Linked DNA regions of Homo sapiens: regions 2 and 3 are each linked to region 1. The links come from fine-mapping of genetic effects on gene expression. A gene starts in region 1. Each other region holds a variant in brackets. All regions are shown on one strand. Distances are between the middles of the regions.

Region 1 (11,661 bases):
CAAAATAAAATTATTTATTTTACACTTTTCAACAACACAGATTAAAAATTTTTTAATTTTTTTTTTTTTGAGATGGAGTTTCTACTCTTGTTGCCCAGGCTGGAGAGCAATGCTGCAATCCTGGCACACTGCAACCTCCGCCTCCCAGGTTCAAGATATTCTCCTGCCTCAGCCTCCCAAGTAGCTGGGATCACAGGCATGCGCCAGCACACCCGGCTAATATTGTATTTTTAGTAGAGACTGGGTTTCACCATGTTGGCCAAGCTGGTCTCGAACTCCTGATTTGAGGTGATCCACCCGCCTCGGCCTCCCAAAGTGCTGGGATTACAAGTGTGAGGCACCGCGCCTGGCCCAGATGAAAAATTATTAAAAACTCTAGCAAAATAATTTTTAAAAATGTAACCTTAAATGTATCACAGTGGTAACATTACTAGCCCTTGCATTTTTGTGCTGTACAGGGAGCACCACTAGTAAATTTGTCACTAGTTTTTTTTAAATGCACCCATAAAAGGACAGATTCCTTTTTCCTTCGAATTGGCAATTAAAAAAAAATTAAAGAATTTCTGTAAAAGCAGAAGCAAAGAGCTCGTGAAAACAGAAGTGTTCTAAGTGTAAGTTTTGCAATCATTCCTATTACCATAAAGTACAAGAAACTTTGGTTCGTTTCTGCTCTCCCCCAATTAGCTCTGTGATTGAAAAAAACAAAAAACAACAAAAAAAATTTATCTGGCTTTACTTGTCCTTTGACATACTTATTACAATTGTAGTTATGCTTTCATTTTGTCTGTTCCTTCTCTACTGGTCTGAGATATTTCAGTGTCAGGACTATGTATTCACAGTTCCATACCTGGCATATAAGTTGTTCACTGACTAAAATGCATGTTTTTGTTAATCTGCGAATTGAAGCAGTTGGATTAAATTTTCCATGTCCCTTCTTTGTTTCTGTGATATATATTTACTTTGAATTACCTAAGCCTAGGCAGTTAATTTTTCCCTTAATTTCTAGCCTTTTATTGCTCATTAATCCTCTTTCTAAATAAGGACATGTGTCCTAATTCAATTTGAAAATAAAGTAGTACAAGTAGCTACTGTGGTACTAAGTAAGTTTAGACAGGAAATGCTTCTCTGAGGGAGTGCCATAGAGTTTGCTGTTGAAGCCAATCAACTCCTACCTCTTGAAGTTACGGTTTGCATCTAAAAAATAAATTTAAAAACTACAAAGGCAAGTAAAGGCAAATCAAACTTAAGAACAATTTCTAAATGGAGAATCTGATGCTCTAAGTTTCACAAATGAAGCATAATAAAGTTTTGCTGGTGAACCTACTAAGCCCAGGAACATAATCCAGCTCTCCATGGTTGTCCTTTGTACCAACAGAACTCCAGTAACCTCAGTGAGAAGAGTCATGGCCCTGCAGTTGACTATCCACATTTCTTTAATGTAAGTCAAAGCCCATCACAATGCATCCTGTTACAATGGAAATCTTATTTTTGGAAGTCCACTTAATTATTTTGAGCAACATTATATACAACCCAACAGATACAATTAATTGACAACTTGTTGAAATGTTAGAGTTAAACCACAAAGAGTAACTGAGTAATGTTGACAACCCCAATATTTATTCTCATACTGTGCTCAACATTAGATGATCTATAAAATTCAACTGGCAAAGGGAGATCAAAGAATTGTGCTTCATCTTGAGCTTGAATTGGATGACAAGGAGATTAGGAAATCCTAAGTGGAAAAATATTCAAATCATTGTGCTTTCTATATATTTTTCTTACCACCTATTTCCAGTTATAAACCTTACATCTGTGCCTCTGCATACCATTTAAGTACAATACTAAACATTCTTTAAAATCATTTTCTACTAACTATAAAAGGTACACTCAGATAACTGTAAAATCATTTCCGTTTAGAAGAAAAGCATCAAATATTCAGGGAACTTTATTTTTAAAGAATAAATCAAGTAAGACACAGCTTTCGTTTACCTAAACATGCATAATCCAACCTGAATATAAACTGCACTTAATTGGTGAATTACACATGAAATACAAAGGGAATGCAATTTTACATATGTAAAATGATTGCTAGCTATAGCAATTTAACAGTCAAATTTATCAGAACATTGTACATTAAAAAACACAAACAACAACTTAAAGCCAAATATCTATAGTAAACCAAGGAAAATTCTGATATGGAATGGTTTGACTAAAAGCAAAGAATAAGGCACCTGCTATGAATTTAGCACAACCATAAAACAGAATTAGTTAACCAAGACACTTGTTTCAAAAAGGGAAACAAGTACAGAGACTGATTAACTGGGTGAGAAAGGCAAGTAACAATTTAGTTAAAAACCTGCTGGCCCAAGGTCAGTTGATTCATTCCTTATTCCAGAATAGTTAAGTTCCTGAAAGTCCTTAACCACTCTGCTCCCTTACTGTTCTCCATGTTTGAGGGTATCAGAAGCCCCCTGTGAGGTTCACGCTGTGTATAGACTAGGTAGCAGATTTCCCTTCTGTTCCTCTTAAAACAGCTTATTTTAAAAGAAATATCCTGAGGCAATTAACAAAGCAAACACAAGCAGCTTTCTTTCCAACGCATTAATACATAGACACTGCTCAGGTTTTTTTTCACCAAGTTATGGCTAAGTATACAAATAGCCAATACTTGCAGTTTTCAACAGTACTAGAAAACCCAAAACCTGCCCTATGACCCTCACCCTTACCATTAGTAAAACGTAAATTTGATCAATCATAACCTATAAAGTCATATAACAAAGGGAAGACTAAAGACTGATCATTATCAGTAAATCCATTCAATTCCAGATGCCACTTTAGGCTGATGTGTCTAGTACCCTAATGATTGAAAAATCATTAATCTAGAAAAAGCATTTGCAAACTAAGGATAACTTCGCAGTTGATGTGCCTTTTTTTGCTATTAAAAGTGCTATTTAACATGCTAAAATGTCTTATGGCACATTGGACTCAACAGCATGTTCTGATGAGGCATCCATTTTTAGCAGTATTTTTCCCTAGAATTTTGTTTGGCATAGTAAACCCCTTTGATATATTAAAATAGTTCTGGTGAAATAAATGTAACATAAACAAACCTTCCCTGACTGACTTCACTCCACCACGGTAGCTTTTAGTGAAACCACAGTAACTGATTAAGTCAGAAAACGATCAAGTTTTTTTTTTATGGCATCTTGGGTTACTATACTCACTCATGCAAAATCCAAGGTAGTGTAATGGAAACAATATTGGTAAAATAGATGTTGTGGCTATAAGCATCTCCCTTTATATTAGACATTTAGAAGCTTTTAAAACTTTTTAGATGCTAAAGGTTGTGGCAAAACTAGGCTGTGTAGTTGTTCCATTTATAAGCACCTTATTACAGGACAGTTACATGAACCTATAAGGGAGTGTGCTTTCAGTTCAAAAGAGTAATAAAGTGCCTAGCTATATAAAAACCACAAGACTTCAAATTGTAATTTAAGCTAACTGCAGTTATACATTTGGGTTAACAAAATCTAGACCCTGTCTATGCAGAGTTAGACTAATTGTTCATACTGTTTTAATAACCACATAAAAAAACTTACTCTTAATTGACTGAATAAGTAGGGTCCACTACTGTATCTTAACAATCAAATTTTATTGCTTTATTCATGTGGTGTTTTTTGCAAGGCACTGTGGTATGGACTAGAAAACTTGGAATGACTCATGAAGAAACCTTGGAATGACACATGAAGCATGATAGGAAAGTCATTCTGAGGCAGGATGCTTTACTGAATTGTTTTCAACCAGGGTATCAAACATCAGGAATGAGTTCAAGTTAAAATTCACAGGAGAATGGAAACATCTTAAGGTCAGTCACTTCACATGCCCATCCTGATACTTTGAATAATCTGGAAAATTGCTGTAAAAAGAAAGAGCAAATATTAAAATAAGCTTTGAATAAAATAGGTCTGGTGTCTAACAAATATTTATTAAGGTAGCTGAAGAATCCAAAGGTACTCTTACATTTGCAAATGGTACATAACTTCAGTATAATAAGAAGTGAAGACAGGCCTGTCTGAATAAATAAAACAATGAAATATCCCTGAGTTATTTTTTTATCTTAGCTTCGCTGAACTTTATGTCTAAGTATCCAAGAGAACTTGCAGATAAGTAATCATTTTACAAAGAACTTAAAGCACCAAAGCCAACAGGTTTTTCCAGCATAGAATTATTTTGGTTTATAAGCATCCTTTTAAGGCCTGGCCTGTAACACATGCATGTTTCCTCATTCTCACAAAGCTGAAATTCAATCATCTTCAGGTTATATAAACTGCTTGGCTCTCATCCATTTATCAGGAAAGCTTCCAATTGGTAAGTGAAGAAGAAAGGCAAAGTGAAACGTTAAACAGAAATCTCAGTAATTTTAGAATGTGGAAAACAAACATCTACTTCAATATTAACAGCTTGCATATTAAAATGATAAATGAAGAGAGGAAAGACCTTTTTTTTGTAATCTATTTGCAAAGGCAAGTGTCTGTTACTCTTAGGGGACAGCAGGCTACCCCGACACTTTTTTTTTAAACCATGTATCAAACGTTTCTTTTATTAACCTAAAAACATTTGACTCACACATTAAAATGCCAATCAGGTAATTTCCTCTATAGTGAATCAATTCTTTGCACAAGCTTTATTTTATAAAATATACTCAATTTTGACATTAAGACATTAGATTCTGGTATATGTTAAATCAAGTTCTAACATCTATAGTACATATTTATAATTTTCTTTGCAAAGACTGATAATGGAGTTACAAAACATTCTAAATTCTCATTTCGTTAGGTTTTGTCCGGTCTTAACATTTATTCCAACTGGATCATTACCAAGACCTGACCTCCTTTTTGATCTCCTGTGAGTACAAATTAAGCTGGGAGAAGTTTCTGGAGCACCACCCTCTGTGCATATGTGGAACAAGTAATTTGGTTCAGACGAAACAGAATTATGTGGAGTCCTCGGCAGGTGGGTTGAGAACTACGCAGGTAGGACTCACTACTGACCGGTCACCACGTCATCCCAAATCCTTTCAACCCAAGACTCTACCTGATGGGAGCCCCCAAGCCACTTACCAGAACCACAGACAACAAAAATGAAGAGAGCCAATAACCAGGGTCCTACAGACGCCTTCTCTTCGGGGGCATTTCTCTGCAAAAGCGAAAATCCACCATTTCAGATGCAGAGAAACCACTCGGACCCCAGGCTCCCACGCCTGCACGCCGGTCGCCGGCCCCCTCACCTCACAGGTCTCCCCTTCCGTTCCCGAGCCCCCACAGTCTGGCGGTTCGCAGACTCGGGCCCCTACCCCTCCACGGCACCAGCCCACGGTCGGCCGGATCCGGGAGAAAACGCGACGCGGCCCCAGGGACCCGGACTCAGCTCCGGCTGCGGAACGCAGAGGGGCGCCCGCTCTTTCCTTACCGAGGTCTTGGCGACGTTGCCGCGCTGGGTGATGTTCTTGCTGTGCTTCTCGTTGGCCATACGGATCCTTTGCTTGGCGACCATCTTCGCGGCGCCACCACCTGCCCCGGCCACCCCTCGGACTCGCTCACTCGCCTGCCTCCTCTGGAGCCGCTGCGAGGCTCGGCTCGTGGTGCCCGCGCCGCCGGAGCGCCGAGGTTCTCAGGCCAGACGCTAGCTACGGCCGCTGGGCCTGGGCGCCGCAAGCGCGAGGTCTGAGCACAAGCCGGGCGCCGGCCGCCGACTGACTGACCGAGCGGGGCAGGTGCGCAGGAGGAAGAGAACTGGCCGCCGGGTCGTTCTCGCGCCGCCGTCGCCGCCGCTTTGGCCGCCGCCGTGAGCGCGGAGTGAAAGAGGAAGGAAACGCAACGCAACAACGGGAATGTGCAGCCCGCCGCCTCGATCTACTTTGGGTTCGGCTGCCAACGTCAGCACTAGACGGACTCCGCCCCGCGGAAGTGCGCGCCCCTCCCGCTGGAGAAGGAGGGCGAAAGCAGGCGCACCCTCCCAAGCTCTGTCAAGCGTCGCCCTAGATTTGCGCGTGCGCGTTTGGGCGCCTTTTCCGCGTCACTCCGTAACCGGAAGTGAATTGGCCCCGAGGCTGATGGCTCCGGAAACACCAATTCGCTGTCTCCACGCATGAGGAGACGTGTAGGGGCCGGGTTCGGCCCTGGTGAACTCTCACCCGAGCGGTTTCTCTTTCCGGGACAACATGGCGCCGTCCACGCCGCTCTTGACAGGTGAGTTCTGAAGAAGCGAGGGACTCTCTTTCTTCAGACTAGTTTCTTATTTTTGTCTTTGCCTTTGAGAACTACCCGAGGAGCCGGGGAGTCTGATCTGCCTTTTCTTGTGGCTTGCGGAAAGGCCAGACTGTTGGCTTTCTTGATATAGCGTGGCAATCGGAAGTGAAGTCTCCGCCTCTGGGCTTTCGTATTCCCCCTCCCTTTCACCCATCCATCATTCTTGCCTGCGGATTCATCTTCTACAGAAATAGAAGAAGGGGGAGAAAAACAATGTGCTAGTTGAATTTGTGACACATGGGTCTGCAATACTGGTGTTACACGGGCCCTTGTGAAGTCATTTAGGTCTACAATAAGAACAAAGACAAACATGAGTTAGTCCTCTAGAATGATCACGCACTTTAAATACACCTGGACTTAAGTAATTCCAGATTCTGGCCTTCCTGCCTTAATGAGGTTTGTAGGACTGAATAGGGAGAGTGGAGCTGTAATGCAGGTTTCAAATGATGAAGGTGTGGTTGGGAGAGGGTGTAGCAGTGAGCATGATAGAGATATTCTAGCAACATTTGATTTTGAAATGGTTATGAGCATATTAGAAATAGAACATTAGAGGACTCTTGAAATTTTGAAGCTAAAGACTGTAGTGTTGGAGGAGATAATAAACTTAGATTGGAAAATGCTGGGGAAGTTGCTTTACTAGGGTGTGGCTAAGAGTCTGCATATGAGTATTACGTAAGGAAAAGAGAGTCGGGAAGGAAAAGAAGGTTTTGGTTAAGTTCTGATAACTATATAGAAGGAAAAAGTCATTAAGAGAAAGGTTGTCTGCATTTAAGGAGGGAGGCTATTCCCTCCCTTCCCCCCCGCGAAAGGAACCTTAAAACATTTTTGCACTTTTTGCCAGTCTACATTTCTATTTTTACATTTTAAAATCTTTGTTATTAAGCGCCATGCCCACTGATGCTCAGTCTGTCTTCTGCAGTTTAGTCATCATTTATCAAACGCCGAGTATAATCTTCTAGATAATATACCAGGCAAAGACTGTTTAAAAGGCAAAGTTACATAATAAATTTTTTTTTAGGTTTGTAAAGGTAGCTTGTTATTCACAATTTTTAATACTAAATGCTTATTTGAACTCTAATGAAAAAATTACATTCTAAAATCTGATAAATAACCCCTCCTTTAAAAATGCCTACAGTAGGTAGTTCCTCTCTGCTTACAGGGTAGATTCCATCCTATGTAGCATAGTTATGTAACCATTTATAATCTTTGAATTGCTCTTGAGACTCATTTATTTCCTTGCCATCCCATCTTATTTGGTGCTCCATCAATACTGAACTGCTTCTGAGTCCCTTTGAACAACCTGTTTCTTCAGTCTAGTACTATCCTATGCCTCTTGTTGATTTGGCAAACTCTTTTTCATCTGTTGAAATTAAAATTCATTTTAGATATCATTGCTCTGTGAAGCCTTTCGTCACTCTACCCAGATAGAGTCAGTCACTTCCTGGGCTATTTTTGTACCTGAAATATATTTGAAATTTTATTTCACTTACTAAGTAGGATAATTAGACATTCACTTGCCTTTCTCCCCTGCTAGACTGTGAGTCCTTCAATGTCAGCGACAGGGTCTTATTCATATCTGTCTTCTCAGTACTAGTGCAGTGCCTGGTAGACAATAGATACTCTAAATCAGGGGTCCCCAACCCCCTGGGCCGGACTGGTACTGGGCAAGCATTACCACTTGAGCTTCCCCTCCTGTCAGATCAGTGGGGGCATTAGAGCCTCATAAGAGCGCAAACCCTATTTTGAACTGTGCATACAAGAGATCTAGATTAGATTTGTCTGTTTAGACTATCCTTTTAAATTAATGAAGGATAGCCACTTTATAGTAAATTAACCAAGGATGACAATTGTCTTACAGTGCTTAAAATCAGGGACTTTGTAAGAGCTTAAATGTTGTCTGTTCAGTCTACTCTTCATATTCTCATATTCTTAGAGGCCCAGAGAGATTAAGTGGTCCGATTCACACTGCAAATTGGCAGGATTAGGATTATACTTATTCAGATTGTTCAACTCTGTGGTCCATTTTTCTTTCACTAGAACAAACTGTTTAATCTTTTAAACATTCTCAGTGTACATATTTCATTCAACAATAGATTATTTTACTTCCAAAATCTTTTGTTAAATTTAGACTCGTGGGATTTTAGAGCTGTGAATAATTTGCAGATTAGCCAGTAAATTTTGTTAACCCCAACTCTTAATTGGGAGTGACAAGCCAAAGCAGGTGAAAAAGGGATTTTTTTTTTTAAACTCGTATAACCTAAAAGCCTCAGTACTGCTAGATCCAGATACTCACATGGCTTCAGAAATCTGTTTTTCTTTCTTTCTTTCTTTCTTTTTTTTTTTTTTTGAGATAGTTTCGCTCTTGTTGCCCAGGCTGGAGTGCAATGGCGCGATCTTGGCTCGCTGCAACCTCCACCTCCCAAGTGCAAGCAATTCTTCTGCCTCAGCCTCCTGAGTAGCTGGGATTACAGGCGTGCACCACCACGCCCAGCTAATTTTGTATTTTTAGTAGAGTTGGGGTTTCACCAAGTTGGTCAGGTTGGTCTTGAACGCCTGTCCTCGGGTGAGCCACACGCCTCTGCCTCCCAAAGTGCTGGGATTACAGGTGTGAGCCACCATGCCTGGCCAGAAATCTGTTTTTCTTCATCTGTAGGTTCTTGCTTTCCTCCAGATTAAATTCATCTTTAAACTGACATTCAACCAAATGCCCAGCTCCAAAGGAAAGAACACATTTTTGCCAGTAGTCTCAGCAAAAATCTCAAGGCTAGCTGCCTTTGACTTTGCTTGGCTCACCTTTGTATCAGTCAACTTTTAATCATGTAGTCAGGACTAAATTATCTTCCCACTCCTCGATACTCCTCAAAAGAAAATGAGCGCCTCCTAAAGAAGAGGAGCTGGTTGCTAGGCACATAAAACAGCAATGTCCATTACGTGAAATTCACATTGTCTAATCTGCTTGACCAGTTGAAGTCACAGAGATAATTTATTCAAAATTGAGTGATTTTCCTAAACTAATACATAGTTCAGTGAATGTAAGAGTTGGGAAAAGTATCGTATTTTAAAGATGACTACACCCCTGCCATGGGATCCTTGTTTATTGAAGCCCTGTGTTTTTCTCTCTCTAACTCAGGCCTAGAGCAATAAATAGTATATGAATGTCTAAAAAGGCTAGTAAGCTTGGAAAAGATTATGTAGATGTTTAATGTATTTCACACAGCTACTGTGTGAAACTGGCGTTTATTTGTTGTCTTAAAAGAACTGCTTGCATTCTAGATTTTTCTTTCTGCTAGAACATATTGCCAATCCCATTTGATTGAAGAGGGAAATCACTAAAAACAGGGAATCACACAAACTCAGAATACACTATATTAAGCTAACTACGCATTGTATTTAGTTTCACAGATACTTGTAACTAAAAAGGATTCCTTGTTAGAAAGTTACATGTAGAAAAAAATTGTTTCAGTATTGAGAAGTTTTTTAGTCCCTATTTATTTTTGCTTTTATTAGTTTAAAACAGTTTATGTTCTGTTATGGACCTGATTTTGTGTTTTTTTCTAATAAACTTTGTATCACAGCTTATCAGGAGTAAATTAAACTGTATATGCTTTTATTAAATTTATTTAATAGAAAAACTAATTAAATCTAGCAAGGCATCTTAGAAGTACAAAATGTCAGTTTGGGCCAGGTGGCTTACAGCTGTAATCCCAGCACTTTGGAAGGCTGAGGGAAGCAGATTGGATTGCTTGAGCTGAGGAGTTTAAGACCAGCCTAGGCAATGTAGTGAAACCTCGTCTCTACAAGAAATATAAAACTTAACATGGCTTGGTGGTGGGTGACATGATCATGGTTCACTGTGGCCTTGACTTCCCAAGTCCAGGTGATCCTCCTGCCTCAGCCGTGCGAATAGCTGGGACTACAGGCATGTGCCACCGTGCCCAGCTAATTTTTGTAGAGACAGCATCTCCCTATGTTGCCCAGGCTGGTCTTGAATTCCTGGGCTCAAGCCATCTGCCTGCCTCGGCCTCCCAAAGTACTGGGATTACAGGTGTGAGCCACCACGCCTAGCCTGAGCCCTATTTTGTTTTCCAGCTTCATCATCCTCTAGCCACACAGGCCTTCTTTCCATCCCCTTGACGCTCTGTCGTTTTTCTTTCCATGGGGTTTTTGCACTTGTTAACTGTTCTCCTTGCTTGTTAACTGCCATTGATCCTTTACATCTCAGTATACAAAACACTTAAGGATGCTTTCCCTAACCTTCCATTTTTAGGTTAAAACTCTCTTTTATACCCTCAGTGGTACCATATACCTTTCCTTTGAAGGACTAAACACAGGTATATGATTCCGTATATTTGGCCAATTATTTGATTACTGTTTGCAAAGTTCAATGAGGTCAGAGACAAGGCTGATTTTCTTTCCTATTATTTCGCCAATGTTCAACACAGGGCCTAGGAGGTAGTTTGTTCGTTTTTTTCCCACTAAGCATTTGTTGACTAAATGAATCTATTTATTTGGTTCAGCTTTAGAAGCATTTAATTCAACCATTTAAAAAAGTATAGTCTAGGCTAGGTGCGGTGGCTCACACCTGTAATCTCAGCACTTTGTGAGGCTGAGGAGGGAGGATTGCCTTAGCCCAGGAGTTAGAGATCAGCCTGGGCAACAGTGAGACTCTGTCTCTACAAAAAAAAAAAATAGCCAAGCAGGGTGGCACATGCCTGTAGTCCCAGCTACTTGGGAAACTGAGCCAGGAGCATCACTTAAGTCCAGGAGTTTGAAGTTGCAGTGAGCCTTGATCATGCCACTGTACTCCAGCCTGGGTGACAGCAAGACCCTGTCTCAAAAAAATAAATAAATTTAAACATAGAAATAAGAAGTATAGTCTAGTTCTGTAGATGATTATTTAATCTTGAACTTTGTTTCCACTTAATTTTTTAGGCTATTACTGTCATTGGGGCCTTAATAAATGAATATGTCTCATTCCACTTGTTCTCTTAGTTTGATAAATTGTGAATATATTAATATTGCCTTATATTTCTAAAAACTTTAAACATATACTTTTTTTATTACTTTATATAAAGCATACAGCTATCCTGTGTTCTGATATTTCCATTTTACAGATTAGGTCACAGATTCAGAGGTGGTAACGTATCCAAGGTTCCACAGGCAGTTATAAACTTAGGTCAGGCTCTGAATTCATGTCCTCTTTACCACAAGACAGCTGCCTTTCTTTCAGTGGTGACAAAGTTTCGAGTTTTATTTAAAAAGTTACGTATTTCTCAGCAATTATATGATTTTATGTAACAGAGTAAGAAAATATGCCCTTTTGTTGCTAATATTCTATAGTTCAATGAAATAT
Region 2 (9,266 bases), 62 kb after region 1:
GGCTACGCGAGGCCCCGGCTTCGCGGCCTAAATGGCCGCATCTTCGCTGGCCTCGTAGAACTGTGCCGGCGCCCTTCCACAGCCAGCCTTCTCGCGGCCCCTTAGCGCGGTCAGGCCGCCCTCCTTTTCCAGGTATAACTGCTCACTTGTTTTTTGCCTCCTAGAACAGTGGGAATGGGGAAGGAGGGCGCGAGAAGGTTAAACGCTGAAAGGCGAAGACTGGGGGACACCTGTTAGTACGGAGGACTGGTTGGCGGCGTCACGCCATAGCCACCCCGGCTGCCTGCGGAGATGGGGATGAGTAGGCGCCGCGTCGGCGGAGGAGCGCCAACCGTTTGTCAGTTCACTTTTTCTGCCCTCTTTTCCGGGGTAATGCCGGGCGGCTTCGCTGCCTGGCTAGATGAAGGTTAATTCGGGTCATTGGAGAGGATCCGGGAGTGACAGACGCCGTTTTTCTCCTGAACTTGCTGGGGGGACTGTTGAGTTTGCGAATGGGGCGTCTGACAGCTGGAGGGGGTGGAAGGAAGGTCTGGGGATGCTGGTTCTGTTTGCCATTTCCAAAGTGTCAGAAAAGGAGCACGTTGTTCTTCTAAACATTGACAGTTCGCTCGCATTCCCTCCTCACCTGCCTCCCAGGAGTTGCCTGCTCTGGCATCTCTTTCTACCTTTCAGTTGTCTTGTGTATCCAGCAGATCTCGGCAGTTTTCGACAGTGTTCTTTAAATGATTTTGTTTTTAACCTAATCGTTAGAAGCAGGGCAATGATGCATTTTATACGGTAAGTGGGGTTGCGGGTGGGGATTGAAAGGCTCTGAAGATGGGGGAAAAAACACCAAAATTGTAAAATTATAGAAATGAGAATCTTACACCTCCAAAGATGACATTTTCTCAGGATAAACCGACCATCCCAGAATAGCCAGATTAGTAAATCATCAGAGTCCGGATACATTGGAATGTTGGTGTTGGACATCATTCATTTAAAACCTTCTTTTAAGAACTTCATGTATTAGTATATTAAAGTTTTGATTTTCTACTTCTCCAACTAGCTTTTTACTTACTCACTGAAGACCAAGCAAACCTTTAAAATAATTTTTAAAAATCGGCTTAAGGTGATGTTTGAGTTAGAAAATAAGATGGTGAGACTTTATTTTTTTGAGTGAAAACTAAAACATTGCAATTTCTCCTGATTAAAAACAAACAAGGCCGGGCTCGCTGGCTCACGCCTGTAATCCCAGCACTTTGGAGGCCGAGGCTAGCGGATCACCTGAGGTCGGGAGTTCGAGACCAGCCTGACCAACATGGAGAAACCCCCATCTCTACTAAAAATACAAAAATTAGCCTGGCGTGGTGGCGCATGCCTGTAATCCCAACTACTTGGGAGGCTGAGGCAGGAGAATCGCTTGAACCCGGGAAGCGGAGGTTGCGGTGAGCCGAGAACGCGCCATTGCACTCCAGCCTGGGCAACAAGAGCGAAACTCCGTCTCAAAAAAAAAAAAAAAAACCTCCCTGTACAATGTACTATGTTTCTGGAATATATCATCTTTCATGTAATACTGCAAATGGGAGAATGGTTTATCCATTAACTTTTTTCCTTAATTTTTAAATTAGAAGGTGGTAATCATCTTACTAACCTAAAGATTGTTAAGGGTTGTGATACTTACGGATTTAAGTGTTAAAAAATTGCAGTTTTCAAATTATTTAATTTTTCTGTATCCTACTTTTATCTCTTGGTTGTATTTTTGCTTTTCCAAAATACCCCTTTTACGTTTGCTTTTTTTGGAACACTTGTCACAATAATTTACCAGGTGTATCTTCCACCAAGGCTATTCATAGCAAGGTTTTCAAAATGTGTAAACAAACGTAGGGAAGGGCATTCAGTCCTTCAAATTAAACTTAAAAAAAAAGTAGTAAGTACTTCAGTTAAACTTTTGATACTTTGTTTTTCTTTGTTTTTAAGTACAGACCTGTCCCAAAAGTCTAATAATTTTCTTTTACAGTCACTCTGAGCATGTTATATAACAAAAATGCTTCCATTTAAAAAATTATTTTTATTTTTATTTTTCTGACACTATCCACCGGAGATCATTTTTTGTTTAATCTGTAGATGGGAAATAACGTTATTAATAAGACCCACCAAATACAGATCAACTTAGCTTGTTGTTTGTTGCTTTTCCCCCCAGAGATTAATCTGTTTATGGTAAAGTGAATATTGGGTTTCTGGTTTTGCTAGAATCTTGTGGACATTAATTTGCAAGTTTGTTTGAGAAAGGACAGGAAGCTAATACGTTTGAGGATAAACATGAGAATTTTAAAATTCCATTTGAAGTCAGTATTATAAAATGCAGCTTTTCATTAATTACCACTGCTAACAATCAAAAGAGAACTATTTTACCTTCATTTCCACTGACTTTTTCCCCTTATAGTGATCATGAGTATTTTATCAAAAATAACTATACCTCAATATATCACCTGGTAATTGTACCACTTTTGCAATTGTTAGTCAACACAATAGCAACATAGTGCTGAGAGATCAAGCTTGTAGAGTAGCTTACGACAGAGTTTCCTATTCTCGTTTTTTTTTTTCCTTTCTTTCTTCCTTTTTTTTTTTTTTTGCTGAGACAGAGTCCCGCTGTGTCACCCAGTTTGGAGTGCAATGGCATGATCACGGAGCCTTGACTTCCTGAGTTCCGATAATCCTCCCACCACAGCCTCCCAAGTAGCTGGGACTGCAGACGCGCACCACCACGCCTGGCTAATTTTCATATTTTTTGTAGAGACCTGGTCTTGCCTTGTTGCCCAGGCTGTGTGTAATACCTGCTGTATGCCAGGAATTAAGCATGCTAAAGATGTGACCATCTCAAGAAGTCTACCAGACTGGCACAGTATTACTTGTGTATCTGAGTCTGTGGTTTATTATGTTGATTGAGCAATATAATTAGATACTTTTGATTATATTGGCTTCATACTTGGAAAAAAATTTATTCTGCTTATTTGGACGTTTAACACTTAACATAGAAAAAGGAAGTTCTCTAATCAGAGCTTAAAATTCCATTGTTTTTGAGACAGTGTTGCTTTGTTGCCCAAGCTAGAGTGCAGTGGTGTGATCTCAGCTCACTGCAACCTCTGCCTCCTGGGCTCAAGAGATTCTCATGCCTCAGCCTCCTGAGTAGCTGGGACTGCAGGTGTGCACCACCACGCCTGGCTAATTTTTGTATTTTTAGTAGAGACGGGGTTTCACCATGTTGGCCAGGCTGATTTTGAACTCCTGACCTCAAAGTGACCTACCCACCTTGGCGTCCCAAAGTGCTAGGATTACAGGTTTGAGCCACTGCCCCCGGCTGAAATTCCCTTTTTGTGTTTTCCTTTTATTGATTTTTATAAATTTGTATTGATAGTTACTCTTAGGCATGATGTTTGTCATACATACTTTCTCCGTATATGCGATTTAACATGTAATCAGATCTACAGCATTTAATTAGTTGCAGTTTAAAGAGATTATTGGCTACAACCCTTTACAGTTAATATTTACTTGAACATTTGACAACTGAATTGCTGAGAATAGTAGATTAAATGAAATTGAGATTTCAAAACATAAGTAGAATATGGCGGGATTTTCAAAGTTTTGTTAGTTTGAGAATCTACTGCTGTAATTTTAGGACAGCCAACTTCTAAATGTAGTTTTAAGAGGTAAATGAAACAACTGTACCAAAACAGATTTTTATTTAAATTTACAACTATTCAGCCTTGGCTTTCATAGTGTGACAGCAAGAAAATAAAGACCTAAGGTTGATTTGGATGTTGATACTCATCAAGATTAGTAGTAAAATGCTGAATTGGAGAAATTGTGAGTTACAGAGATCATGTTGGTTACTGTAGACTTGATATTTGCATATTCAACAGATATTGGAGCACTTACTCTGTGCAGGCACTTTGCTTCCTGCGGAGAATTCAATTCAGTGCTCTCGTGGACTTCACAGGCAAGAGCAGATGCAGACATTAATCCATGGACTGACCACACAGATAAAATTCAATTGGTGTTAAGTGCTGTGAAGAAAGATTATGTGGTGGTATGAGAGATGCCTAGTCGGGATCAGGGAAGGTTTCCATGAGGAAATGAACTTTGAACTGAGATTCGAAGGATAAGATTTATTTGGCGAGAACTTTCCAGGCAATGGGAATAACATGTTCAGTGTACTTATAGTAGGAAAGACCACAGTTTTACCAGAGAAGCCTAAGCCTACTGACCTCAGAGACCTAAAAGAAGGTGCCGTTAAGAGCTTGAGGGTCTGGCAGGCCATGCTTAACAAAGACCGTTTGGTTTTCTTGTGGAAAAGACATTCCAGGAGACAAAGAATTGATGGGAAACCATTTAGGGCGGCTTTTGGAGTTGTCCAGGCAAGAGATAATGGAACTTGGAAAAGTAAGGAGGTGGTAGAAATAGAAAGAGATGTATTTGAGAGATCTTTATGTGGTAAATTTAACAGCTCTTAATGATGAATTGTATGTTTGTGGGGAAAGAGAGGTGGCATGAAGTGAGAGATGTCAAAGATGATTCCTGAGTTCTGTGGTGATGCTATACCATTCACTGGAATGATAATTAAAATAAACAAGTATTATGAATGTTTTTGGTGGGAGGGAAGGAATCCTGATTTTTGAAGACTAAGGACATAGTAGCCAGGGGAAAACCCCCACAAAGAAATTTTTATCTCCAAAATAGCCATGATAACTGAAACTAAGAAACTTAAATTAACAGTTACTTTATTACATCAAACCTAAAATACATAATGGATTGTAAGATGTACCATGATTTTATATGCCATTTAGAAGAAAAAAATACTGCCATTTAAACGGACACACTAATGATTATAAGATAAATCCTGTGGCTTTTTTTGTTTGTTATTGTTTTTTTAATTTATAGAGATGCTACATGTAGCCACGTTTAGTGGCTTACACCTGTAAATTCCAGCTACTCAGGAGGCTGAGGTGGGAGGATTGCTTGCGGCCAGGAGTTCAAGACCAGCCTGGGCAACATAGCGAGACTTTGTCTCTAATTTTAAAAAAAGGAAAAGTAGAGATGCTAAATATGGAAAAGTATGCTTATTGGTATCAATGAAATAAAGGAGTAGTAAGAAGTTGGTGTAGATAGCAGGTTAGTAGTAGTAGAGTGTTACCATTAAAAAAATAGCTGCAGCATGTAATTGAACTCCTTGCACATAATAGTTGTTTCCACTTAATAATGAATTAAGTACTTAGTTCAAAGCTTTTAGATATAGGTAAACATGACTGAATGATCTTAAAGGTTTTATAACCTTTTACAAAAAATTGAAACATAATTTCCTAACAGTTTGCCATTAAGGCAAGTGCTGGACAATTGAGTTGAATATATTATTTAGAAATACCAAGATAACCCCTAAATTTTGATTAGTACAGTTTCTTTCTCTCGCCTGATTGTTCTGCCTAGGACTTCTAGTATTATGTTGAATAGGAGTGGTGAGAGTAGACATCCTTGTTTTGTTCCAGTTCTTAGGGGGAATGCTTTCAACTTTTGCCCATTCAGTATGATATTGGTTATGGGTTTGTCAGAGATGGCTCTTACTATTTTGAGGTATGTTCCTTTGTTTAAGTTGTTGAGGGTAAAACTTAAGTTTTGAATACACTGCGCCATCAGTAACTTTTCGGCCTGGCCTCCGTGCCTCTACAGGTGGGACTATAAACTTCCAGAATTCTCTGTGCTACTGCTAGTCCTTTTCCTGCTGCCCTGAAACTGACACACCCTTGCTACTTATTCTGTTGATGTTTTCTTTTTCTTTTTTTGAGACTGGGTCTCACTCTGTCACCCAGGCTGGAGTGCAGTGGTGCAGTCATTGCTCATTGTAGCCTCGACTGCCGAGGCTCAAGTCATTCTCCCACCTCAGCCTCCCAAGTAGCTGAGATTACAGGCGCGCACTACATGCCTGGCCAATTTTTGTATTTTTTTGTAGAGAGGAGGTTTCACCATGTTGGCAAAGCTGGTCTTGAACTCCTGGGCTCAAGCAGTCCTGCCTCAGCCTTCCAAAGTGTCGAGATTACAGGCAGGAGCCCCCTTGCCCAGCCTTGGTGTTTTCTTTCTTTTTAACACATCCTCTGTCAGGATATAGAAAGTTGGGAATGGGAGCATGGATAGTATCTTACTTCACTGAAGTTGACCAGCTATTTGGTTCTCCCTTTGGGATGAGCCTTAGATCTGTGAGCTTTCAGATAGGAATTTTCCTGAAGCAGAGTTTAGGTAATTTTTCTTAATCTTGACCTTTCTGTCTACCTTATAATTAATATAATTTTCTCCTAGATTTTGTCATTAGGTTGTTGGTTAAAGTGTCAGTGTTTGGTATGATTTATTTTTGTGAATTTTTGTGATTTCAGAATTTGAGTAAGAATTTGATAGGGGCTATGTACCAAAATTACATTACATTAGAGAATTTCATTAGTTTAATGTTTTAAAAGGTAATTTTGGCTGGTAGAAAAAAATGAGGAACAGAGTGAATGATATCAAAGATTCCTAGTAGTTATGTGAATGAAAATGAAACCCAACTGTTTTACTTATGATTGGTCTCTATTGTCACATTACAGTGCTTACTTTTGAAGGTAGCTTAACTAATTTTGTTATAGTTTGGCATTA[C/T]GAAACCTAGCATTTGTACCACAAGCAAGACAGTCTTTTCATTAGGTATAAAGGTACCCTTTTCTTTTCATTTTGACAAAGGTGTTCATTTGATAAGTAGTTGTGTCATTAAGCAGAACTACTTATGGTTGATTTGATTTGGTTATCTCAGCACTTCAAATTCAGGATGGCACTGTGTTTGGTTTTTCTTCAAGTTTGCATCTTAGTAACCAAAAACAGTCTTAACATTTCAATCAGTCTATTAGACTGGGTTCATGTTTCATTATTTTCAATTTTGCTGGTAGAGAGAAGGAAAGGATAGAATATACATAATTGATGACCTAAGAGAAGTGTGATAGAAAGATACACCAGTGAAATTATTGTTCTTTCTCTCCTTGCTCTTTAATTTGTGTTTGTAATTTGTGCACTGCTTTCTGGGCTTGCTTCTGCATTACCTTATAATTGTTCCCCAGGGTTTGCTGTGTATTTGTCTCTCTGAAATTAGATTGTGAACTCTTTCAGGAAAAGAGACTAAAAAATGTTTTACTAACATTTAAAGTATCCAAATGCTGTTAACATTTTTCTAATAATGGTGATAACCTACCTACATACATGTGTCACTTTTACATGCCTTATCTCTTGAGTACTCTGAGAACTACCTGTGTATTGCAGGTGTCATCCTACTCATTGTACAGGTGTGGATACTGTGACAAAAGCAGGTTAATGGACTTGACCATTGTCTTGTTGGTCAGTGAGAGAGCTGATTTCCTGACTCTGTATTTAATGGTCTTGCCACAGTACTATTGCATCATGAGTCGTGTGTGTGTGTGTGTGTGTGTGTGTGTGTGTATTTGTTTTTGTTTTCTTTTTTAATAGTAATAACCTTTATTTAAAATAGTTTTTAATTTAGGAAAGCTCATTTTACATGAGTTTCCAACTAATTATTAGAGTCAGAAACAAAGAAAATAAAATCAGAAAATCTTTTGCAGAAAAAATACACAAAGAACATTTCTACATGTGAAAAAGCGGTAAACAGTGTTAACATCCAAGTTTTTAGTCTCAATTCCACATCTAGTGAACACCACTATCAACCTTGAGATCTGATTTGTTCTTGTCATTCTTCACTGATTAGATGAAATATGTTAAGGTGTCTTTTTCACTCACTGGAATAGACCTAAAGTGGCAACCAACTATCTCAACAAGTTGTGCTTTATTAAGTCCTGGTCTGGTTGGTGGCTTTAAGTGTCTTTTGTATCTCCTAAGTGTATTTACTTGTAATTGGTATAAATCAACCTCTGGGGTATCGAAATCTTGAACAGGTGAATCACCTCCATCATCATCACTCCCTTTTCTCTTTCTTCTGTTTCGAATACTCTGAATTAAGTTTTTATGATAATCACATATGTAAAGATGCCTGCGCTCTTATCCAGCTCGATCTTCACCTTCTGGGATATGCTCTTCTGGATCCTCTTGCTGAAGCTGGCGTTGCCTGCTGCCCGACCGCACCGCTCACCATCCTCCGCAGGCAGCACAGTTGCCAGGAGCCCGGCCTGGCCGCCCCCAGGGGCCCAGCCGCTGAGACCGCCCCTGCGCCCGGCCCCTCAGCCCCGATTTCCCGGACGAGGCACTGGCGACCACAGCGGCCACTGCGGCTGCCGCCTCCCCACTGCCCAGGCGTGAAGCCGTTCATGTCTCCGAGCTCCGGGGTACCGGCGCTGACAGAAATCCCCACTCTCCTGGCCGCTCCGTCGGCGGCAGTTCACTCTGCACACCAAGTTAGCTGCATGGCAGAACACCAACTGGGCCTGCTGCTGCTGGCGCCGAAACAGTGGACAGTGCCGAGGGCCGGGACTCAGAGTCGAGCGTCTCCTGGAATGGAGACCCAGCTCACTGTTACATGGGGTCTTCAGCTTTTTTTTTTTTTGAGACAGAATCTCGCTCTGTCGCCCAGGCTGGAGTGCGGTGGCGCAATCTTGGCTCACCGTAACCTCCGCCTCCCGGCTCAAGCTATTCTCCTGCCTCAGTCTCCTGAGTAGCTGGGATTACAGGCGCCCGCCACCGCACCCAGCTAATTTTTGTATTTTTAGTAGAGACAGGGTTTCGGCATGTTTATCAGGCTGGTCTCAAACTCCTGACCCTAAGTGATTGGCCCTCCTCGGCCTCCCAAAGTGCTGGGATTACAGGTGTGAGCCACCATGCCCGGCTATATATATATATTTTTAATGTTGGTCATTCTTTCTAATGTTAAGACATATCCTTTGAGGATAATTAGATTTTGGTGTCATGTAATTTGGGTGGTATCACATAATTTCGTTCATATTCTGGATCTGCCACCTATTAGTTATATGACTAAAACAAGTTAACCTATCTGAGTCTATTTGCTCAATTATAAAGTGGGCATGATAGAACTTCACAGGATTGTCTTGAGGGTTTAATAAGAATATAGCTAGCTAGCTAGTTTGTTCAAGGACATAAGTATCTGATAAATCTTAATGTTTCCCCTGTTGGTGAGTCAGAACAGAAATAAGAGTTGAAACTGCTGGTAAGCCTATTTTATCCATCTTCTTATTTTGCCCATAGTTAAAAAGCCACTTTTGTTATATTCTGCACTAACTTCCAAAGTTCATTTTGTT
Region 3 (11,661 bases), 44 kb after region 1:
CGCCACTTTGATAAAGAGGAAATGATTGTTTGTTACTGTTATATACATGTATTTTTATCAGAGATGGGTTATGTACTTTTCCACGTTTGATAGTTGGTTGTATTTCTTTAGTGAATTGATTTTTCTTTTCCTTTGCCCATTTTTCTGTTTGGATGTTTGACTTTCTTCTTAATTTGTAAGAGTATCCTATGTAGTAACAAAATCCTTTTTTAAAAATTTTTAAAGAAAAAGTATACACACAGGACTTTTTTTTTTCTAATTCAAAAAATACAAAGGCATGCAATGAAAATTAAGTCTGTTCCACTACCACATTTTCCAGTTTTTTGTGTATCTTTCTAATGATAGATACCATATGAGTATTCAAATATACATACACATACACTTAAAAAAAAAAGATGGCATATACTAACTGTTCTGTTTGGGGCTTTTTGGTGGTGGTGTTTGTTTGACAGGGTCTCACTCTGCCTCCCAGGTTGGAGTGCACCTTGAACTCCTGGACTCAAGTGATCCTTCACCTCCTCCTTCCAAGTATCTGACACTACAGGCTTGCATCACTATGCCCAGCTTATACTCACCATAGTGGTTCTGTACTCCCTTAAAATATTCTGGAGGCCAGGCATGCTGGCTCACACCTGTAATCCCAGCACCTTGGGAGGCCAAGGTGGGTGGATCACCTGAGGTCAGGAGTTCAAGACCAGCCTGATCAACATGGTGAAACCCCATCTCTACTAAAAATACAAAAGTATCCAGGCGTGGTAGCACATACCTGTAATCCCAGCTACTTGGGAGGCTGAGGTAGGAAAATTGTTTGAACCCGGCAGACAGAGGTTGCAGTGAGCCGACATCGTGCCATTGCACTCCAAGCCTGGGCAACAAGAGTGAAACCGTCTCACACACACACAAAAAAAAATATTTTGGAGCTCCTTCTATATGAGTCTCTCTCTCTTATCTCTCTCAGGATGTGTGTATGTGTTTGTTTCTCTGGAAAACCCTGACTAATACAGATTAGCTATGTATTAGGTAATACATAATGCCTAATACATAACTAATATATGGACAGGAAGTTAATAGACTGACTGTGCCACCTTAAAACTCGTATGTTGAAGCCCTAACCTCCAACGTGGTGGTATTGGGAGATGGGCCTTTTGGAAGGTAAGTGTGTTTGAATGAGGTGAAGAGGTTGGGGACTTCGTGATGGGATTATTGTCCTTACAAGAAAAGACACCAGAGAGCTTGTTCTGTCTCTTTGGGCCATGTGAAGACATGGTGAGAAAGCAGCCAGCTGTAAGCCAGAGAGTCCTCACCAGAACCTAACCATGCTGGTGATATCCTCATCTCAGACTTCTAACCTCCAGAACTGTGAGAAAATAAACTTCTTTGTTTAAACCACCTAGTCTGGTATTTTGTTACGGCAGCCTGAGCAGACCAATATAGATTGTATAAATTTCAGTTTGTTTAAAAGGACAGGCCGGGTGTGGTGGCTCACGCCTATAATCCCAGCACTTTGGGAGGCAGAGGCGGGCGGATCACAAGGTCAGGAGATCGAGACCATCCTGGCTAACACAGTGAAACCCCGTCTCTACTAAAAATACAAAAAATTAGCCGGGCGTGGTGGCGGGTGCCTGTAGTCCCAGCTACTCGGGAGGCTGAGGCAGGAGAATGGCCTGAACCCGGGAGGCGGAGCTTGCAGTGAGCCGAGATCGTGCCACTGCACTCCAGCCTGGGCAACAGAGCGAGACTCCGTCTCAAGAAAAAAAAAAAAAAAAAAAAAAAGTAAAGGACAACTAATGAATCAAGGAAGACTTTATGGGAAAAAGTAAGATTTAACATGCTCTAAATAGAAAAATGGTTTGCTTTTTTTTTTTAAGGTTTAACGTGTTTATCATGGTTGGCAGCTAAGTAGAGGAAGAGCCAAGTCCAGAATCTAACATTTGGACTTCCCCTCATTTAAACAGTGGCGTTTTGCCACGTTGCCCAGACTGGTCTCAAACTCCTCAGCTCAAACAATCTGCCCACCTCGTCCTCCCAAGATGCTGGGATTACAGTCATGAGCCACTGCAGCCAGCCTACATTTTTAAATGGTTGGAAAATCAAAAGATTATTTGATGACATGTGAAAATGGTATAAAACTGTGAAATCTATTGTCCATAAGTAAAGTTTTCTTTGAACACATCCATGCTCACTCGTTAACTTATTTTCCATGGCTGCTTTCATGCTGCAACTGCAGAGTTGAGTATTTCCAACAGGTCATGTTTTTGCAATGCCTAAAACATATACTCTCTGGCATTTTACAGAAAAATATTGCTAATTCCTTTGTATTCTGTAGAAGAATACAAAATAACATGGAAATAACCACATAATTATGTTGCTTCTTGTATTCTCCACTATATAAACTCCTAGAAGTGGAATTCTTGAGTCATGTCACATTAGAAAATTTAGGCCAGGCACTAATTTAGGCTCATGCCTGTAATCCCAGCACTTTATAAGACTGAGGCTGGAGGATCACTTGAGCCCAGAAGATTGAGGCTGCAGAGAGCCATGATCATGCCACTACACTCCAGCCTGGGTGACAGAGAAAGACCCTGCCTCCAAAACAACAACAAAATGTAAATACTTTTTGTTGTTACTATTATCATCATCATCTTTATTTTACTTGCTGATTTTCTCCTTCACTATGTTTGGGGTTTTTTTACTCAATTTATTTTCACATTTGGTACTGTTATTACTCTGAGACTGTTGTTTTTATTTAGTGGAAGCATAATCAAGTTAAGTGAATCAGATGTGACTCCGCAATTGGCATTTTAACATCTAAATTTGGGACAGAGTCTTGCTCTGTTACCCAGGCTGGAGTGCAGTGGCTCGATCTCAGCTCACTGCAACCTCTGCCTCCTGGGCTCAAGCAATTCTCGCGCCTCAGCCTCCGAGTAGCTGAGATTACGGGCATGCACCACCACGCCTGGCTAATTTTTGTATTTTTAGTAGTAGAGACGGGATTTCACCATGTTGGCCAGGCTGGTCTCCAACTTCTGGCCTCAAGTGATCCGCCTGCCTCGGCCTCCCAAGCTTTGGGATTACAGGCATGAGCCACTGCTCCTGGCCTTAAACTTTGTTTAAAAAAAGAAATAAAGCAATGGGCCAGATTGGTTTTGACACAGATTGAACAATTTAAACATTTATTGCTCAAAAGATTAATGAAGATCATGGGCCACTAATCTGCTTCAGACAAACTGTTAAACCAGTTTTTAAAAAACTAAATTGAACATTTTCTGAATTTATACCCCTTGCCAAGTAAAAAATAATACACATACATTCCAAAATAAATTTAATATCAGAAATTCTGTGATGTTTATGTTGCAATCCAAAAAGGTGAAAAGGTAAGATGTTGAGTTTTCCAAAAGTAAATTATAAGGTGAGCATTTTATCCTTGGCTTTTCAGCTCTCTATGGAAAGATACAATCCATTAATAGTCATAGACCTGCTGACTGTCTGTAACCCCTGCGTCAGATCAGTGGTAAGTCATAGGCCCAGCCATAACATTACACCTCTTCAGGGACAGCTTAGCCCTGTAGAGTCGATGAGGTTAAGTGGCAGGCGTGGACACGGCGGCAGTTGTGAAGAGCTGCTTACACCAAAGCCTTGCCCGGAATGCAGGGCTGATTGCCTGCTCACAGTTGGTCTTGTGACTGACAAGTGTCCTGTTAGTGTCGTTGTAGGATGACAGGGGCCTCACAATTTCCAAAAAAAATTATTCTGTAGGGGAGGAGCATTTTTCTACTCTTCAGGACTTTGAGGAGGTCTACATCATCTGAGGCTCAGTACTGTCTTTGGAAAGCAGTTTGCAGGACTGCAACCAGAGGAAATGCTTCAACCATTTGTTCTCTGCACCTGGGGGAAGAAAGTCTTTGCCCTGAAGTGTGATAGCCAGTGATCTAATCAGCTACAGTTATGTGCCACATAAAGACGTTTTTGTCACTGACAAACTGCAAATATGATAGTGGTCCCATAAGCTTATAATGGAGCCGAAAAATTCCTATCTCCCAGTGGCATGATAGCCTTGTAATGCCCTAGCACAACATATTACTCACTTGTTTGTAGTGATGCTGTTTGTAAACAAACCTGTGCTGCCAGTCCTATAAAAGTCTAGCACTTACAATTATGTACAGTACATAATACTGGATAATTATAAATGACTGTTCCTGGTTTATGTATTTACTATACTATACTTGTTATTTTAGAGTGTACCCCTACTTTAGAAAGTTAACTGTAAAACAGCCTCAGGCATGCCCTTCAGGAGGAGTTCCAGAAGGCACTGTTACTGTAGGATATGACAGCTCCATGTGTGTTATTGCCCCTGAACACCTTCCAGTGAGACAAGATGTGGAAGTGAAGACAGTGATATTGATGATCCTGATCAATAGCCCCTACATGGCTGGGGCTAATGTATGGGTTTGTGTCTTTAAAAGTTAAAAAAAAAAAAATTAGAGGAAAGCTTTTAGAGCAAGGATATAAAGAAAAAATATTTTCGTACAGCTGTATAATGTGTGTGAATGTGTTTTTTGGTTTTTGTTTTGAAACAGGGTCTCATTCTGTCACCCAGACTGGAGGGCAGTGGCACAATCTTGGCTCACTGCAACCTCTGCCTCCCAAGCTCAAGGGATCCTCCCAACTCAGGCTCCCAAGTACCTGGGACTACAGGCATGCACCACCGCACTCAGCTAATTTTTTTACTTTTTGTAGAGACGAGGTCTCACTATGTTGCTCAGGCTGGTCTTGAACTCCTGGGCTCAAGGGATCATCCCACCTCAGCCCCCCAAAATGTTGGGATTATAGGCTTGTTCTGGCCAACGTATGTTTTAAGCTAAGTGATATTGTGAGTCAAAAAGTTATATAAAATTAAAAGTTTATAAATTTAAAAAGTTACAGTAAGCTAAGGTTAATTGATTATTAAAACAAGAAAAATATTTTTAGCATAGCCTAAGTGTACAGTGTTTATAAAGTCCATAGTAGTGTACACTAATGCCCCTGGCCTTCATGTTCACTGACCACTCACTCACTGACTTGCCCAGAGCAACTTCCAGTCCCACAAACTCCATTCAAGTTAAGTACCCTATATGGGTGTACCATTTTTTATCTTTTATGCCATATTTTTACTGTACCTTTTCTACGTTTACATATGTTTAGATAGACAAATATTTACCACTGCTTACAGTATCAATACAGTAACATATTGTATTGCTTAGGAGCAATAGGCTATACCATCTAAGTTTATGTAAGTACACTGTATGTTCACACAGTGAGGAAATCGCCTAGTGACACATTTCTCAGAACCTATCCCTGTTAAGTGACACACGGCTGTTCTTGAGCTGCTGCTTCATAGGCCACTCCCTCCCTCTGTAATGCTCTGTTTTGTTCTTGGAATCTCTCGAGTACTTCACATCTCCAAACTTCATTTCACCGCGGGTATATTGTGGAAATTATAGGTAAACCAATTAGTATGAATCCATCTACTTTCTGTTTTCTAGAGTTTTTAATACAGTTTCTGAACCACTGGTCCTTCTTTCCTGGAGGTATTGCAGTTTCTGGACCACTGGTCCTTCTTTCTTTTCAGTGTTGCCACAAAATTATTGCTTGTACCACTTTCCTGTCATGTCACTCAGATCCTAAGAAGGGGGAGGCAGATGCATGTGCTTAGTCTGTTGTCTTAAATTGGAAGTCAGACAAGCACACTTCTAAAGGTTTTTTGTATTTGATAATATATGT[A/G]TACATTTTGAGACTGGGTCTTGCCTTGTTGCCTAGGCTGGAGTGCAGTGACATGATCACGGCTCACTGCTCAAGTGATCCCCCACCTCAGCCTCCCCAGTAGCTGGGACTACAGGCATGCACCACCATGCCCAGCTAATTTTTGTATTTTTTGTAGAGACAGGATTTCGCCATGTTGCCCAAGCTGGTGTCAAACTCCTGGGCTCAAGCAATCCACCGATCTCAGCCTCCTGAAGTGCTAGGAGTACAGGCATGAGTCACTACATCCAGCATATATATATACACACGTATATGTGTGTATATATATGTATATGTATATATATGTGTATATATATGTGTATGTATATGTGTGTGTGTATATATATATATATATATATATATATATATTAAAAACATGAATGTAAAAATTAAAAGCATTTTACTTGGTTCACCTAAACCAATTCCTCATACGGACACTAGAGGGTTCTAAGGATCTGGAGTATGGGGAAATTAATGAGGAATTCAAAATTTTAGAACATAACTGGAAAATATGTTCACTCACTTAAAACTTGCCATTTTAGTAGCCTGGATTACTGCTATTTATTTATTTATTTGGAGACAGGGTCTTACTCTGCTGTCTAGTCTGTCTTTTCTCATTGTCAAACTTAACCCTCTTTAGACTTTTGCCATCAGACTTATTCCCACCCTCCTGCTAAACTTGTTCTGTAATAGTGGTCTCTTATTGGTGCAAATGAATCATATTCCAACAGTTTGTTTAGAAGTCAACCATTTGCAGAGAGGACTATGTTTTCCCATTGAAAGAATATTATAAATTGTCATTGGTGTTGAGGTGAGCATTGGTGAAAACCTTAAATGCAAAAACTGGGTATAGGCTCATTAAAAAAAAAAAAAAGTTGAAAATCACTTAAATTTTCAAGAGAATGAGAAGCCACAGAAAATATTTGCAAAAGATGTATCTGATAAAGAGGTATTATCCAAAATATACAAAGAAATCTTAAAACTCCACAGTAAGCAAACAACTTTGTATATTAAAGTTGAAAATTCATTTAAAAATATATAAAAGTTGTTTAATATATAAAAGTTTGATTAAAAATGGGCCAAAGACCTTAACAGACATCTCATCAAAGATGATATACAGATGGAAAATAACCACATGAAAAGATGCTCCACATCATACATCATCAGAGAAATGCAAATTAAAACGATAGTCAAATACCTCTTTACACCTATTAGAATGACCAAAACCAAAAACACTGACAACATCAAATGCTAATGAGGATGGGGAGCAGCAGGAACTCTAATTTATTGCTGGTGGGAATGCAAAATGGTACAGCCACTTTGGAAGACAGTTTGGCAGTTTCTTACTAAACTAAGTATAGTTTATTACTATACTTTTAACATACAATACAGCATGTCACTCCTTGGTATTTACCTAACGGAGTGGAAAACTTAAGTCTACACAAAAACCTGCATACATCGATAGCAAACGTATTTATAATTGCCAAAACTTGGAAGCAACCAAGATGTCCTTCAATGAGTGAATAAACTGAGATACATCCAGACAATGGAATATATTTAGGACTAAAAAGAAATGCGCTAACAAGCCATGAAAAGACAGAAGAAACTTAAATACATATTACTAACTGAAAGAAGCCAATCTGAAAAGGCTTCATACTGTATGATTTCAACTACATAATATTCTCAAAAAGACAAAACTATGGAGACAATGAAAAGATCAGTAGCTGCCAGGTATTAGTGGGGAGGGTAAATATTTAGGACAGGGAAAATATTCTGTATGATGCTGTAATGATGGATACATGTCATTAAACATGTTTCCAAATCCACAGACTATACAACACCAAGAGTGAACCCTAATGTAACCTATGGACTTCGATTATGATGTGTCAAGGCCGGTTCATCCTTTATAACAAATGACACATTCTGGTGGGGGATATTGATAGTAAGGGAGGCTATGCATGCAGGGGGTATGTGTGAAATGTGTACTTTCTGCTCAGTTTTGCTGTGAACCTACAACTCCCAAAAAATTGTCTTTAAAAAATTATTTAATATTTAAAAATTAATGCCACAATAAGAAATAAGAAAATAGAATGAAAATTCTTGTTGAAAGTTTGAATACTTTTTTATTTTAGAAGAAACATTAAAATGAAGGAAAAAGTATGGGAAAATAATTTGTAGGAGATTCCCAAGGATGCTTTTTGTGCTTTAGATACTGATTCTTTAGGACAAACATATAAGCTTATCTTCTCTTTTCCCTGGTATAAATTTCACCATTCTCGAGCTTAACCATCATTGAGGTAATCCAGCATTTACAAACAAAATGACGGAAGGGAAAGAAAACATATTTTTCTAAGATCATTAAGCAAAAATTGGAAATGAGGAGAGAAAGAGAGAAAGGCATTATGGAGAAAGAGATATACATAAGAGGGACAAAGAAAGAGAGAAGGAAAGGGGGCAGTGAGGGAGAGATACTGCAATTAAGTGGGAGCCATCACCCAGGACACCACCTCAGTTTCTTGTCTGAGGATTTAATGGGAGAGCTGGGAATGAGTACTCTTGGAACTGAGAGGAACTGGTAACCAGGAATGGATAACCCAGGGATTTACCCCAGAAGTAGTTGCAAATCAGGCACTATACGATTGGGAATACATCCACAAACCTTCTAGGACTTAAATTCCTTTTTAAAGTAAAGTCAGCTGTATTTTTTTAGAGTCTCAGGCCTGGCAAAGCAGAGGTTTTTGCCTTTACACTATTGGGCAAAATTACTTCCAGGCACAGTTTTGTTTGACTATGTTCATTGAAGCTAAAGAGCAAATCCTAGAATTGTGATTTCACTGGAGAGAATCTTTGTGCCTACTCTGTTTTGTTTTTGCATCTTCTTCCCTCTTCCCAGCAGGGACATCTAGTCCCCATTTAGGGAAACTGAAGTCCCTAGCTTGTGGCGCTTCTCTCACTCCCCTAGTCATATCTGAGACAATACACTCATACTTTTTTTTTTGAAACAGGGTCTTAGTTTGTCATCTAGGCTAGAGTACAGTGACATGATCATGGCTCACTACAGCCTCAACCTCCTGAGTTCAAGCGATTCTCCCACCTCAGCGTCCTGAGTAGCTGGACTACAAGTACATGCCACCATGCCTGGCTAAATTAACAAAAAAAAAAAATTGTACACCAGGTGTGGTGGTTCATGCCTGTAATCCCAGCATTTTGTGAGGCCAGGGGAGGTGGATCACTTGAGGCCAGCAGTTGGAGACCAGCTTGGCCAACATGACGAAACTCTCTCTCTCCTACAAAACACAAAAAAAATAGCTAGGCATGGTGGTGCGGATCTGTAATCCCAGCTATTTGGGAGGCTGAGGCAGGAAAATCACTTCAACCTAGGAAGCAGAGGTTGCAGTGAGCTGAGATCGTGCCACTGCACTCCGCCCTGGGCAACGGGCAAGACTGTCTCAAAAAATAACTTTGTGTTGTTGTTGTTGTTGTCTGTAGACACAGGGTCTCATCATGTTGCCCAGGCTGCTCTTAAACTCCTTGGCTCAAGTGATCCTCCCTTCTCTGGCTCCCAAAGTGCTGGGATTACAGGTGTGAGCCACCATGCCTAGCTTATAGTTTATTGATTGAAATAATACATTTAGATCACAAAGTTCAAGCAGACATTTGGATTTTAAACACTGGCAGTGAAAAACTTTTTCATGGAATTTCAAATGGACAGTTTGGTAATACTAACAGTGGTAGAGAAGCGATCAGCCTTGGACATAGAAGTAGGACCGGCTTCATAATTTGCAGCGCCCAATGCAAAATGAAAATGTGAAGTTCTTTATTCAAAATTATTAAGAATTTCAAAGCTGTGACAACAGAGCATTAAACCAACTACAGGGTCCTGTGTGACTGCATAGGTCACATACCCATAAAGCCAACCCTGCATAGAAGCTACTGAAACTCCACCTCCCTCTGACCTATAAGAAGTTCTTTAGTTTGTTTCTGGACATCCCCCTGTTCCCTAGAAGAGGAAGAGGTAGTGGCCAATCACACCAAGACTGCTGGCTCTGGATTGGTAGCTGCTAAGAACTGAGGAGATTTTCGTTTTCTACTTCTCTATTTTTTCTTTGTAAATTTTTATTTATTATTTTTTAAAATTCGTGGGTTTTGTTGTTGTTGTTGTTGTTGTTTTTGAGACAGGGTCTTGCGCTGTCACCCAGGCTGGAGTGCAGTGGTGTGATCATGGCTCACTGCAGCTTCGAACTCCCTGACTCAAATGATCCTCCTGCCTCAACCTCCTCAGTAGCTAGGATTACAGGTGTGCACCACCATGACTGAATACTTTTTGTATTTTTTGTAGAGACAGGGTTTCATCATGTTGCCCAAGCTGGTCTTGAACTCCTAGACTCAAGTGATCCTCCCCTCCTCGGTATCCCAAAGCGCTGGGATTACAGGCATGAGCTACCGCTCCTGGCCTATTTGGTACTTTTTTTAAAGATGGGGTCTTGCTCTGTCACCCAGGCTTGAGTGCAGTGGTACAGTCATGGCTCACTGTGGCCTCAACCACCTGGGCTCAAGCAATCCTCCCACCTCAGCCTCCCGAGTAGCTGGGACCACAGGTGCGTGCCGCCATGCTCAGCTATCTTTTTTTCTTATTACCAAAATAACATATGTTTAACAGGAAATATAGCCAAGCAAAACATTTTGATCCATATCTTCCTATTTATGTACTTTAAAAAATACATAAATAATAATGTGATAACACTTTACTGTTTCGTAATCCAATTTTAACATTCTATGTTGAGCACTTTATTTTTCATTGAATTCTAAAACATATATTTACTTTTTGAATAAGTATTACAAGACAACAGCACACAACTTTAAAATACAAAAGTTACTTATGCAATAAGAATAACTTCTCTCCCATCTTTGTTCCCTAGTCACTCTGTTCCCTGTTCTCCTCTCAGGAATCAACCACTTTTTGGTTCCTTGTATATTATTCTTTTTTTCTGAAACAGAGTCTCACTCTATCATCCAGGCTGGAGTGCAGTGGTGCAATCTCAGCTCACTGCAACCTCTGCCTCCCAGGTTCAAGGGATTCTCCTGCCTCAGCCTCCCGAGTAGCTGGGACTACAGGTGCCTGCCACCACGCCCAGCTAATTTTTTGTATTTTCAGTAGAGACAGGGTTTCACCATATTGGCCAGGCTGGTATTCTGCATGTAACTTATACACATATAAAAATTTATAAGTCATTTTTAATGGTTGTTAAAATGCCACTAAATTAATATACCATGATTTATTTAATGCAGTGTTGGACACTGAAATTGTTTCTGATTTATAAATTTATAAAATAACATTGTGATGAATATTTTTGTAATTAAAATCTTGAGCTATACATTATTATTTCTCTAGGTTAGATTTAGAAGTGGAATTGCTGGGTCAAGGTTCATGTACATTTTAAGGCTTTGGGTTTATGTTGACAGATTGTAGTTCCAAAAAACTGGACTTACTTATTTTCCCAAGTTAGTATAATGGAGTGCCCATTTTCCTACAAAATCACAAAAACTGAGTATAGTTTTTTTTTCCTGTCCCACAATTATTACAACTTGATTTTGTTGTAATCAATATATTTTGTTTTCCTGATCAGCTTCTTCCAAGGCCCTAGGCTCACCAGGTCCTCCTCTATCCTGTACTCCCTGAACTCCTCCCATGCCTTCTGTTTCGGCGGTCCCATGACCCAAGTTCAGTGATTAGGTAGAAAGACTCACAAGATGGAATAGCAAGTAATATTCGTGGTAAGGCTTATTACAGCAAAGGTTACAGAGCAAAAGCAGTGGGAAAAAGATATGCATCAAGGGAGTTCAGAGAGGCCAGGCACAGGCTTCCTAAGCATTTCCCATTGG

Which allele goes with the higher level. Alleles are on the strand shown, and positions count from the first base shown. SD is a standard deviation of normalised expression in the study named. Not every link is listed here.
For the expression in fetal neocortex of the gene that starts at base 5,914 in region 1, T is the low allele of the variant in region 2 and C is the other (small effect, 0.28 SD a copy in Walker 2019).

The links. PIP is the estimated chance that this variant, and not a neighbour inherited with it, causes the effect. A credible set is the group of variants that fine-mapping cannot tell apart.
Region 2: its variant is the best candidate, but not a certain one, in a credible set for the expression of SERP1 in fetal neocortex (Walker 2019, PIP 0.59).
Region 3: its variant is the best candidate, but not a certain one, in a credible set for the expression of SERP1 in whole blood (INTERVAL, PIP 0.59).

The regions. Positions count from the first base shown.
Region 1 is chr3:150,540,583-150,552,243 of GRCh38, forward strand. SERP1 (stress associated endoplasmic reticulum protein 1) reads right to left here and starts at 5,914. Exons shown (of 3, transcript NM_014445.4): 1 at 5,470-5,914; 2 at 5,121-5,196; 3 at 1,416-3,916. The coding sequence starts at 5,553. The coding sequence ends at 3,876. It overlaps EIF2A (eukaryotic translation initiation factor 2A), which reads left to right and starts at 6,205. Exons shown (of 14, transcript NM_032025.5): 1 at 6,205-6,248. The coding sequence starts at 6,221. RefSeq lists enhancers at 5,425-6,055, 5,501-6,700, 5,973-6,512.
Region 2 is chr3:150,603,555-150,612,820 of GRCh38, forward strand. All of the region lies in intron 1 of SELENOT (selenoprotein T), which reads left to right. It also overlaps the pseudogene SAP30P1. Among named protein-coding and RNA genes, the nearest start is that of SELENOT, 4.9 kb to the left of the region's middle. RefSeq lists enhancers at 1-651, 1-225. The variant C/T (reference allele first, on the strand shown) is at 6,655.
Region 3 is chr3:150,584,628-150,596,288 of GRCh38, forward strand. All of the region lies in intron 1 of LOC124900547 (a long non-coding RNA gene), which reads right to left. It overlaps EIF2A (eukaryotic translation initiation factor 2A), which reads left to right. Exons shown (of 14, transcript NM_032025.5): 14 at 1-1,389. Among named protein-coding and RNA genes, the nearest start is that of SELENOT, 13 kb to the right of the region's middle. The variant A/G (reference allele first, on the strand shown) is at 5,761.